2 separate regions of the Homo sapiens genome follow, and region 2 is linked to region 1. Evidence: fine-mapped expression QTL. Tissue or cell type: whole blood. Region 1 holds a variant in brackets; the other region holds the start of a gene. All regions are shown on one strand. Distances are from middle to middle.

Region 1 (6,343 bases):
CGAGGAACAGAATCAGGGCGGTGAGCAAGATGCCAGCTAGGGGCTGAAAGTTGCCAGGGCTAGAGGTGATGCTGAAGGGAATGTGGACCCACAGCTTCCCTTTACCAAAGGACGGTTCCAAGGCGTGGGTGTGTTTTCATTCCTCTCTCCTGTTAGCTAGGTGTTCCAGTTTTGGAAGGGGCATGTCTGGGCCCGGCCACTTCAGTTACAGTCATAGACGAAGTCATAGTTGCTGGGCTCCTTGGGAATCGGCGGAGGTGCGTCAGGGATCTGGATGTTTTCCAGGTCCAGGAGGCGGAGCTTGATTTCCATGCTGAGCAGGGTGTCCAGGTCATTCCGCGTCAGGTCGCTCATCATGTCCTTCCCGAGTAGCGCATTCAGTCCATCCGTCCAGATACAGTACTGGCAGGAAGGGAGGCAACAGCGATCATTACTGGTGGCAATTACAGAAGTATTAATAGTAAAAATAGCTAACAGTGAATACTCATCCCTCAGTAGGCTGTGCGCTAAGGGCTCTGCCTACTTCGTCATTTCATATTTGGCGACATCTCAATATAAAGTCGATACTTCTGTTATCTCTGTTTTATAGGTGAAGGAACTGAGGTACAGAGAAGTGACTCAGTATTATGTAGACCGGGTGGGATTTGAACCCAGGCAATCTGACTCCAGTGCCTGTGCTCTTCTTTGCAAAGAATGCTTCTCTGTAACAGCTGAGGATTGGAGTTCTCCATGACTTGCAATGTAACACCTAGGTGGGAGTCTATGACTTTTAGGTACTGGTGGAATCTACCGAACAGCCCTGGACTCAACATCAGGTGAAGCAGGTTTCTTTGCTGACTCCAGTCATGGCTCCTAGTCTAGTAGCTCATCTCGGCCTGTCCTGTCTGATCCTAGCATTCACAATGACAGCCCTGTCCCACCCTGGAGCCAATGGCCAATGGCAGTCCCACCTTGGTGTTTCTCAGCTAAAGGGCTAGGAAATAGGCTTATGCTGCCCAGTGTCTGGCAGCCAAAATGGTTAAAATTATTGGGCAATCTTAATGGGAGGAGGGTTGGCTGCCTGTCTGGGGACCTCTTTAGCCTTTGTCTCTAGTTCCTAAGGTTTCTTTTCACCAGGTCTCTGGGGCCTCATACTTGGGGATATTATCTGTTTTGGAAAGCCCTTCACAGTACCCAACTAAGAGTCTGATTCTTCTCCTTTCATAGCCTTTTGTCTCTCCAGGAGACTATGATCTCTGTGAGGGAGAAGGAAGAACTGTGCCTTGTCTGAGGACCTGCTTTTCTCTTCTTAGCTTCCCCTCCCAGAGGCTGGAGTTCTGTACTGACATGGACAGAGAACCATGACACCTGGTGAAAGAGGCACCCCTGATGCCAGCATCTCAGAAAGCTGCTTGGCATTCTGGATGCTGGGCTCCACTCATGCACTGGAGTTTAGGTTTCTAGTAGTCCTATATAGGATTCTATAACAGCAATTGTTCTCCTCTTCTGTTGAAGTGGTCTTCCTTCTACCATGCACTCCAGATTCCCAACTTTTCTGCCTCACTAGTTCAAGCGGCAATTCCAGACCCTCTTTAACCTACTTTGGCACTGTGGTTATCTGGACTGTATTCCATGGTAGCAGATCTCAACGTAAAAGTAACCAAAGTATACTGCAAGCACTATATAAATCTCCAGTCACCATGATGTGATGGAAATCTTCCGTGATGCACATCAGCGGTCCTCCTTTTTAAGCTGAGGAGATGCACAATGGGTGTATTATGAGATCTGTGTTTCAGGAGGGCAGCATTGATTTGGAGGGCTTTGGTTCTACCTTGGCTATGTGATCTCAGCCAAAGCATTTAACCCATCGAAACATCAATTTAGTGTTAAGGGATTTCCGGAAGAATTAGTGTCCTCATGATCTGATTCTGAACATGTCTAACCATCAATTTCTTCATAAATAACCTTGACAGAAGTAGACACCTAGCTCCTACCTTGGAGATCCTGATCATGTAG[A/C]TCTAGGGTGAGGAGACTTTGCTTCCTAGAAAACTCTAACGAACACGCAGGTACGGGTGCCACTGAACTCTACATTCTCAAAGGCCCCTTCCAGCTTTCATGCTGTTTCATGGTAAATCCCCAAGTCCTGGGGATTACTGTTCTTTTCACACAGCCTTCCCAGGCCTGGCTAGCTTCCTAGTATAGATTAGTTTAACCCACAGGAACACTTCTGCAGCACGTTTCTTTTTAGAAACAACAGGCACAGAAAATTTTATGTGAAAGTACATCGACCAATAAATAAAAACCCTGTAGTACTGATACTGAATTTGAGTTGGAACTATCAGTATCAATTCATTAGTTTATCTTAAAAGAAAACCACCTAGCTCTGTCCCCAAAAAGGGCTAAAAAATAATGACCAACCAAGAACCACTGCATCGTGGTGTGCAATGACCATAAACACAACTCATGCTTAGATTCTGGTCACTAAATATCATTTCCCACTACAAGTAATCAAGGCTTCACAGAGAAAAGGCAGGAAACATAAAGATAAACCTGGAACACTCCATCATACCAGAATGCCAGAAAGTTATCAAAGACGTAAGGGGTCCTCCCAATAGGACTCAGATGCCAACCCAATGGTGTTCCTACTTGTTCCAGACAGGATAACTTAGAAACTAATAACGACAGTAACTGCAACATATTGAGACACAATTCTGTTTAAAAGCATGATTTCCTACTCAACCCCTGCCCCCAAATGCCTCATTGTTCTTCTTTGAAAGATGCTTACTATTTTGAAAACTGGTAAAGAGAATCAAGTATTTATCCTGCCTACCATATGTAAATTGTATAACTTTAGGATAACCAAATAGTTGATGAGGCCAGTTTCTCTTTATATATCCCTTTAATAAAGAAGGAATAATAAAATTAGGATATCAACCTTTTGCAACCTCTAATGGTTCCAAGGATCCAGACAACGATCATTGTTGGCTGCTAATATCCAAGAAAGGGGAGCAAGAAGTCACCATGAAAGTACAAACACCACTGCTGCTGCTTAGAAAGGGAGCCTGAATTTGATTAATCCTTTAACTACAATTCACAAGACATACAGGGGACCGATGAATATATGAATTATATTGCAGATTGCGGTGGGAAAAATAATACCCGCCTTCCAAAGACACCCACATCCTACTCCCTGGATCCTGTGAATATGTCAGGTTCCATGGAAAAGGGACTTAAGGTTGCTATCCGCTGACCTTAAAACAGAGATTATCTTGGATTATCCAGGCAGGCCCAATGTAATCCCAAAGGTCCTTAAAAGTGAGAGAAGGAAACAGAAGAAGAGTCAGAGTCAGAGTCAGAGAAGTGAGAGGTAGAGGGAGATCTGAGTACGAAAGAGGAGGCTGAAGTGAGGTGATGAAAAGGTTCAACCAGCCATTGCAATGGATGGAGGCCAAGGAGTGCAGGTGGACTCTTGAGTGAAAAAGACAAGGGAAAATTCTTCCCTAGAGCCTCCAGAAAGGAACACAGCCCTGCTGATACCTTGATTTTAGCCCAGGATACTCACATTTGACTTCTGAAGTCCAGAATTCGAAGATAATAAATTTGTGTTCTTTAACACTAAGTTTGTGGCAGTTTGTTACAATAGCAACAGTAAGCTAATACATAAAGTTATAACCAGCACAGTCTAGACTATTAACATTACAGGTCTAATGACCTGTTTTTCCCAATAAATAAATTTCAAGGAAAAAAGGCACATGCTCATGATTGTGAGAGACAGAGAGAGAGAAAGAGAAACCTGTAGATTCAGAGAAACCTAGGAAACATGTCAACCAACTGCAATGCATGGATCTTATTTGCATTCTGACTTGAACAAAGTATGAAAGAAAAAAACACAAATGAGACAATTAGAGACATCTGAAAACTGACTGCACATGGTTTAATAAATAAATACCACATTATTAATTTATTTAAGTGTGATCAGGGTATTGCAGTTATGGTTTTAAATTGAGTCTTTATTGTTGGGAAATGCATACAGGAACATTTATACATAAAATGATATCCAGATTTGCTTCAAAATAATCAGGGGTGGCAGCTGGGTGATGGTGGAAGAGTGGATGGGAGCACAGGTGAACCAGATTGGCCATGAGTTGGTGATTGTAGAAACTGAGTGATGGGCCTGCCAGGAATGTGCGAGCTCAGTGTCTGCTCTTTCTCTTCCTAGCTCCACAGTGCAGGGGTTAAGTGTAGGGCTTCTGGAGCAAGACTGCCAGTGTTTAAATTCCAGCTCTGTCCTCTTACTACTTGTGTGACCCTGGACACGTTTCTTAAGCTCTCTTGCCTCATTTCCCTCTTTTAAATGGGGATTCTTTTAGAGTTATATGAGGGTTAACTGGGGTGAAATATACATATAAAGCATTAATGGTGCCTGGCAGAGAGTAAGCCAGGGTCGTTATACTTACAGTTGACCCTTGAACAACATGGGTTTTAACTGTGTGGGTCACTTATACATGGATTTTTTTCTTCAATAAAACTTATACCAAGTGTGCCTGTCTCTCCTGCTTCCCCTTCCACCTCTTCCACCTCTCTAGCCTCTGCCACCCCTGAGACCTCAAGACCAACCCGTCCTCTTCCTTCTCCCTCATCCTACTCAATGTGAAGACAATGAGGATGAAGACTTTTATGATGATCCTCTTCCACTTAATGAATAGTAAACATATTTTCTCTTCCTTATGACTTTCTTAACATTTTCTTTTCCCTAGCTTACCTTATTGGAAGAATACAGTATAAAATCCACATAACATACAAAATGTGTGTGAATCAACTGCTTATGCTATGGGGAAGGCTTCTTTCTGGTCAACAGTAGGCTACTGACAGTTAAGTTTTTGGGGAGTCAAAAGTTATGGGCAGATTTTCAACTGTGTGGGGGGTTTGGTGCCCATAACCCCCATGCTATTCAAGGGCCAACTGTGTTAACCTTTCTATTGTTGAGGTATTCAGTTCTGGGAGGTCTCTCCGTGCTCATTTGATAAATGAGAATGTCTGTAATAGAACTTTCTATTGTATGGAATAATTATGGAAATAAAATGAGGTAATAGAAGGAAAGTGGTCTGAAGTAATTAAAAGTGTTCACAAGCATATGGCATTTTTCTCTTCATTGTATCTATAAGAAGTGGCAGATATGAATAAAAATCTGGCAGTCCCAGAGCATTTATCCTGATCTGGAATTAATGTACACTGGGGAAAACAGCCTTGCAGAGATTTAAATAACATCCAAAGTTCTACTATTTTAAGTAGTTTTGTACACAGCTCTATACATCTTGAATATGGTGGCCTGTGTAGAACCACAATTTTATTTAAAAACAGAAACAGTAGAACACAGTATCTATTTTCAGAAAGATGAAGACAAAGTCTTACCCTTCAGCAAACTAAATGTCAAGTGACACAGAATTATATTTAAGCACCGTTCTAAATGCAGGATTTGTGTCTAATCTTTCCTCTCTCTTTGGGATATACAATTTTATTCAAAAGCTTCAAACCAGTGAAAACTAGATACTGAATAACTTCTAAATGAGCTAAATGTCCTAGGGGAAATGGGGAACAAAAGTCAGATTCTATTAAAATGTTCTCTTCCTTTCTAAAGCTGTTTATGCAACCACACGCAAAACAAAAATTTGAATGGTATCATCTAAAAATAAAAGTTTCAAGCATGATGTTGGGTTCCAGTTTATAAAAGAAAGTTAAATCAGCCATAACTGCTACTTTATCTTACAAATGCATTTTCCTAGATTTATGCTAAATATTTTAAATATAGCTGACAGCGTGCTACAAGAAGAGAAACAAATTATACATATAACAAGATGTCAGAAAGGAATAAAAGCATCTCGAAAATAAAATCCCAACAGCAGAGACAGCCCTAAACCTCTTAAAATAGCTTAAAGAAATTTGGTAGAAAACCTACTTCCTCAGATGTTTTAAAGAAGAGAGACCAGTTTATCTTGGGAAAATCCAGACCAAAAACGAAAAATTCAATGAAAACCAAAGCTGTAACCAGGGCCGCTTCTTTCTCTGGATTAACAAGTATACCTTTGCTGCATTTGAGGCCTTTTACATCCTTTTTCTTTACCATGAACTATCAATCAAGCTACTAAGAAGTTGAATCTGTTGCAACGGGCAGTTTGTCAAGAGGTTTCTATTCTCCTCCAAGTCAGCAAGATGCCCCTTGGTTCATCATTTTTTCAGGCAGGTCTATTTTTCTTAAGTAAAATTTCTTTCTATATTTTTCTTGAGAAAAGATAACATTATCTCATAAATTATCACCCCCGAGACCCTTACCTCATGCTTGTCAGGAGCGATGAAGTTCAGTTGG
Region 2 (5,000 bases), 590 kb after region 1:
CAAACAAAACAGAGTAGAAACAAGGCAGCATGCACATTTAACCACAGCCTTCCAGAGATAGGAAATGTACAATAATAAAGAGTAAAGCTTCAAAAGGTCAGCTATAAGAAAAATTAAAAATATGTGATGTTTCTGCAGGGGATCTGGCCTCCTAACTTACCATTATTTTCCCCCAGATCTGTAAATTATGGGACATTAATGCTTGAAACAACCTTGGAAAGTAGGCATGGAGGTGAGATAATATGAGAACCCTGGCCAGAGGAGACCCCAATAATAGCTGCTGCCGGTTTTTGCAATCTCAAAGTGATTCTGAGAAGGATTATATCCCTCTATGTCCCAAAGTTGCTCGCAGGGTTTTGGTGTGTAAATACAGGTCATTAATTACTTTTATAGAAGCAAAAGAGAAACACTCAGATATTCTTCCATAGCTTCATCCCCAAGTCACTGGCAGCGCCCAACAGGAAGCCTCCGCTTCTGGAGGCCTCAACCCGTCTTAGATTATCTGAAATCTTAACCATAACGAATTAGGCCCGAATCATTCAAGGCCAGCGGTGTTGGGAAGCCCATGATCCAGCGCGGGGGGCATCCCAAATATATTCACTGAGTCTCGGGAGCCGTCCAGGGACTCTCAGAGCTGGGTCACTACCTGGGACCAAGCCTGAGGCTGGTCCTTTAGGTCAAGGCAGGTCCCGACCCGCCTCCAACTTCAAATGGCCCCCTAGGCGGGAGAGGGTCACTGGGCGGGGAGTTCCTGGCTGTGCGGTCACACACACACACACCGACTCACACACACACCCACAACACCCCCCCCACACACACACACTCACACACACACCGACGACACACCACACACACATACATACGCGCGCGCGCACACACCACACACACACACACACACACACACACACACACACGCCGCCTCGCGCGCGCTCGCGGCACAGCACCGACTTCCCAACCCCAAACACACGCGCGCACCCCCGGGACAGCTGAGTTCTGTATTTCCTCTTCCTCAAAGCGACTCCGGCGATCGCAGTCGCCACTCTCCGCTCCGATTCCCGGGCCCCCTGGCATGCCGCCGCCCCCTTCTCTGAAGGCGCGCCCGGTGCGTCCCCTCTCCGAAGCCGAGATTTCCACGAAGCTCCACAAAGCTCCCCGCCGCCTCTCTCGGTCTCGGCGGAGACCCCGGTGTGTCCCCGGGAGGAGAGTATTTACTAACCAGAACCTCAGGGGCTCCCGGCTGCCCAGACCGCCCTCTCCGGCCCTCCTGGCCCCCATTCCTCTGGCCCATCACCGCCCCCTCCCACGAGCGCGCTCGCCGGGGGATTCCCTCCCATCCCCGAGTGCAGGAGAAGACGCCGAGTCTGAGCCGCAGCCGCTTCTCTAGCTCTATAGGAATCTTGACTCCAAGATCCCAGCCCCACATCCCCCGTCCCCAGTAACCCCGCGCCAGCGTCGCAACCCTCCCGCGCCCCCCCTCCCGCAGACCCTGGTCGAAATGTCTCGGCGGGCTCCCGGGCCCCGGGCCCTGCGCTTCATCCGCGGGCGCCGCACCTCCAGCGCCCCCTCCCTCCGCTCCCACTCCCACTCCCGCCATCCCCGGAGCTCAGACTTCCCCAACTGCAGAGCGCCCCGACGCGCCCGCAGCCCTCACCCTGCCGAGCGCGGCGGCCACCCCCGCCCGAGCCGCGGCGCCCCCAGGGAGGAAACAAAAGTGTCTCCGCGGCGCCCGGAGTCCCCCGGAGCAGGACGCCTCCTCCCGGCCCCAGTCCCGGCCCCCTCCCCTGCCGCGCCGAGGTCAGCGAGTCGGGGCGCGGCGCCAGCCCAGGAAACTTTACGAACCTGCTTGGGGTCGCAGGACAGCAGCGGCAAGGGTTCCCGGCGATCAGAGCTCCGGCGACCCGCCACCATTGAAGGGGAACTGGAGGCTCTGTCGCCCAGCGTGGGGCCGCGGCGGCGTGGGTGGCTCTGCCTCTATCCTGTGCCCATCCTCGCCCGCTCCCGCTCGCCCCAGCACACGCACTTACACTCTGGGTCGGCCGGCTGCTGCACCGCCGGCTGCCGCTGCTCTCACTTCCTCTTCCTTCCTCCTGCTGGCCAGAGACACATTTTGCATCTGCAAGGCATCCGGAGATCAGCCGCGAACTCTCCTCCCGAGCGGACGCTGCGGAGTTGCAGCCGCCGCCCCCGGCACCTGCGCCAGGACACTCGTGGTCTGCGCGTTCGCCTTGCGCCCGCACCCTGCCTGGTCCCTGCCCACTGCACTTTGCCTAGGGGGATGCCCACGACTTTTTGAAGTCCCCCTACTTAAAAGACAGAAATGTCAAACACCATGCATGCCTCAGATCTGCTATAAATAATATGTGTGCAGAGCATGACTTCGATGAGCTCACACACGGCGTTTGGAGGCACTAATTAACTCCGTCACCCTCATAGCGCCATCTCCGGGAGGCCAAAAGCGAGTAGCATCTTTTCACATCCTTTTTTAATTTTTGGCAACCGGTTCCGGATATTAAGGGGAAACTTCGGTGGGCTGTTTGAACGCTACTTTAAGACGTGTTTGTTTTGACGCTGTGCCTCTACCCTTGGACAGAGTGGCAAAAAAAAAAAAAAAAAGTTTCCTCCCTCTCCGTCGACATCTATGTATTTACTAACCCTGCAATTGAAACTACAAGATGTATTTCTAACCAATTAAGCCAGGGACTTCCTAATTTTGCATAACTTTGCATAAGGCAAGACGTTCCACCCATAATTTGATATTTAGAATAAATTACTTAATTCATGCAACCTACTTAAATCATTTTCAAAGCAGAAATCAAAAACGTTAACTCCCAGCCTAGCTGGCAGGAGGGAAGAGGGTTGCAGGCGAACCACCTGTCCTCCCCCAGTTCAGAAATACCTACATTGGCTCTACCGGAAAAGTCAAAGGCAGTTCGGCATTTTCTTCTAATTGGCAAAGGAAATAAGTCGGGGGCAGGGAGGCATCAGAATCAAGGTGGAAAACTAAGCTCCCTTTTAAGATCTTCCCCCTCAAGAGCCACAGGCAGCTGTTGAGCACTTGAAATGTGGCTATCCCTGAGATGTTCTGTAAGTGTAAAACAGACATACAATTCAGTATTTTTAAAATGAATGTAAACTAACTTGTTAAGTATGTTTATGTTGATTACATTATTGCAATACATGAGAATAGTCTGATGTAGTAAGTCAGTTGGATTCGTCATGTGTTGGGTTAAGATATAAGCATATATAAGATTAATTTCACCAGTTTCTTTTTACATTTTCTGATGTAGCTACTAGAAAATGTAAGGCTACACATAGGCTCTCATTAGTGGCTCACCTTATACTTTTAATGAACAGCTCTGATCTAACTCCTTATTATACGCATGACTCTGGGAGGCAGTATTAGTATCAAGAGTGCCTGGGTCCAGATGGTTATAAGCCAGTAACTAAAGCAGGGTGACTGCAGGAAAGCAACTTAACTTCTGTATTTCCTCATCTATAAAACAGTAATGATATAATAACAAAAGTCAATAGCACCAACTATTAAATGAAGTAATTTAATAAGTAGTCAGTAAATGGAGCCTTTACTAACGATGCTCTGAGACACTTGTAGTGATAAGTATGAATTTGATCTACAACCTTGTAGCTAAGGCATATAAAGACCTTAACTTTAGTGCATGCGTGGTGAGCACTCAGTAAACATTAGCTGTCATAATTGTTCCCTCCTTGCACAGCAATTATGCAAATCCACTCCCCTGTAACCTTTGGTCCCGGGTCTTCACATCTTTCCTCCATGAAGTAGTCTTTCAGATCTTTGAAGTCAGCCCTCAAATTTTACCTAAACACTCTCTTTTGAGGATTAACCATCCTCAATTATTCTGACTCTTCTTCATGTGACATGGCTTCAAGTCTCTCTCATTTGAGCCATCTTCTCCCAGAAGAATATCTGTCTCTGCCCTTTAAAAAAAAAAAAGAAAAAAGAAAAAAAGAAAAAAAAGTAGTCTTATAGATTAATTACGTAATTAACCATTAGCAAACACAATACAGCCTGAGATCTTCTCTCTCTCTCTCTTTTTTTTTTTTTCTCAAATACATCTCAGTGTTGATAGGAGTGCAAGGGGAAGACTGGAAATTCTTTACAGTGTTACGGTTAGGCCATGTGCGGGAACATGGAGTTGATCTTTGGAACCAAAGTTCCTGATCCACTTTCTCTAAGTCCCTTAGGATTTAATTCAGGCATCCAGTGTCTCCCCATATCCATGGATTACATTAAAATATTAAGATGCCACATGACATCCCACTAAGGAGCTCCCTCTGCTAAGCTGGGAGAATAGCATTCTTTGGTTCACTGGTTATTAATAAACTGCTTAACAGTGCAATTGCCAAACTTCAATTTTCTCTTCTATTCATAAAGACATCTTAGAAGTATTGTCAAGTGTCTTAGAGGAACCCGCCTTCTCCCTCAGCTCTGCTGGTGGTCAGCAATGGATGCAATAAAGTGGAATATGTGGTGTTGTCATGTATGTGGGCTCCATCTTTGGACCTGGTTGTTGTGTATAAATCCCACCATTACCATTTACTGGCTGCATTACTCTTAACTCATGAGATTGAAACCATGTCTGCCAGATACGGTTAAGTGAAGATTAAATGAGTTAATTCATGAAAAATTCTTAACAGGGCCTAACACATAGAAACACTCATTGAATGTTAGCTATTATTATCTACAATAGTTCTTCAATGGACAAGTCATATTAACAGACTCAAAAAATAAAAGAGCAACATCCACTCCCTCTTTTCACATGTCAGTCTCCACCCATAATGGTGAGAAAGATCTGTTGCCACTGTCCCTTCTCAGCTCCTGGTCACAGCTTGGGCCATTCAATCATTAGGTCATGCTTTAGCAGTGAGGACGGCCATTTTATAGCAAGGAACAGAATCCAAGTGCATCCCTTCACTTGCACTTCTGGTAAGCCCACCTGGGCAGAACTTAGACCTTTGTGCAG

The links. PIP is the estimated chance that this variant, and not a neighbour inherited with it, causes the effect.
Region 2: it holds the start of ELMO1, and the variant in region 1 is fine-mapped to the expression of ELMO1 in whole blood (TOPMed, PIP 0.97).

Annotation. Positions count from the first base shown.
Region 1 is chr7:36,855,350-36,861,692 of GRCh38, forward strand. It overlaps ELMO1 (engulfment and cell motility 1), which reads right to left. Exons shown (of 22, transcript NM_014800.11): 21 at 6,310-6,343; 22 at 1-402. The coding sequence ends at 202. Among named protein-coding and RNA genes, the nearest start is that of MIR1200, 61 kb to the right of the region's middle. The variant A/C (reference allele first, on the strand shown) is at 1,996.
Region 2 is chr7:37,446,836-37,451,835 of GRCh38, forward strand. It overlaps ELMO1 (engulfment and cell motility 1), which reads right to left and starts at 2,029. Exons shown (of 22, transcript NM_014800.11): 1 at 1,840-2,029. RefSeq lists silencers at 1,669-1,718, 1,729-1,778.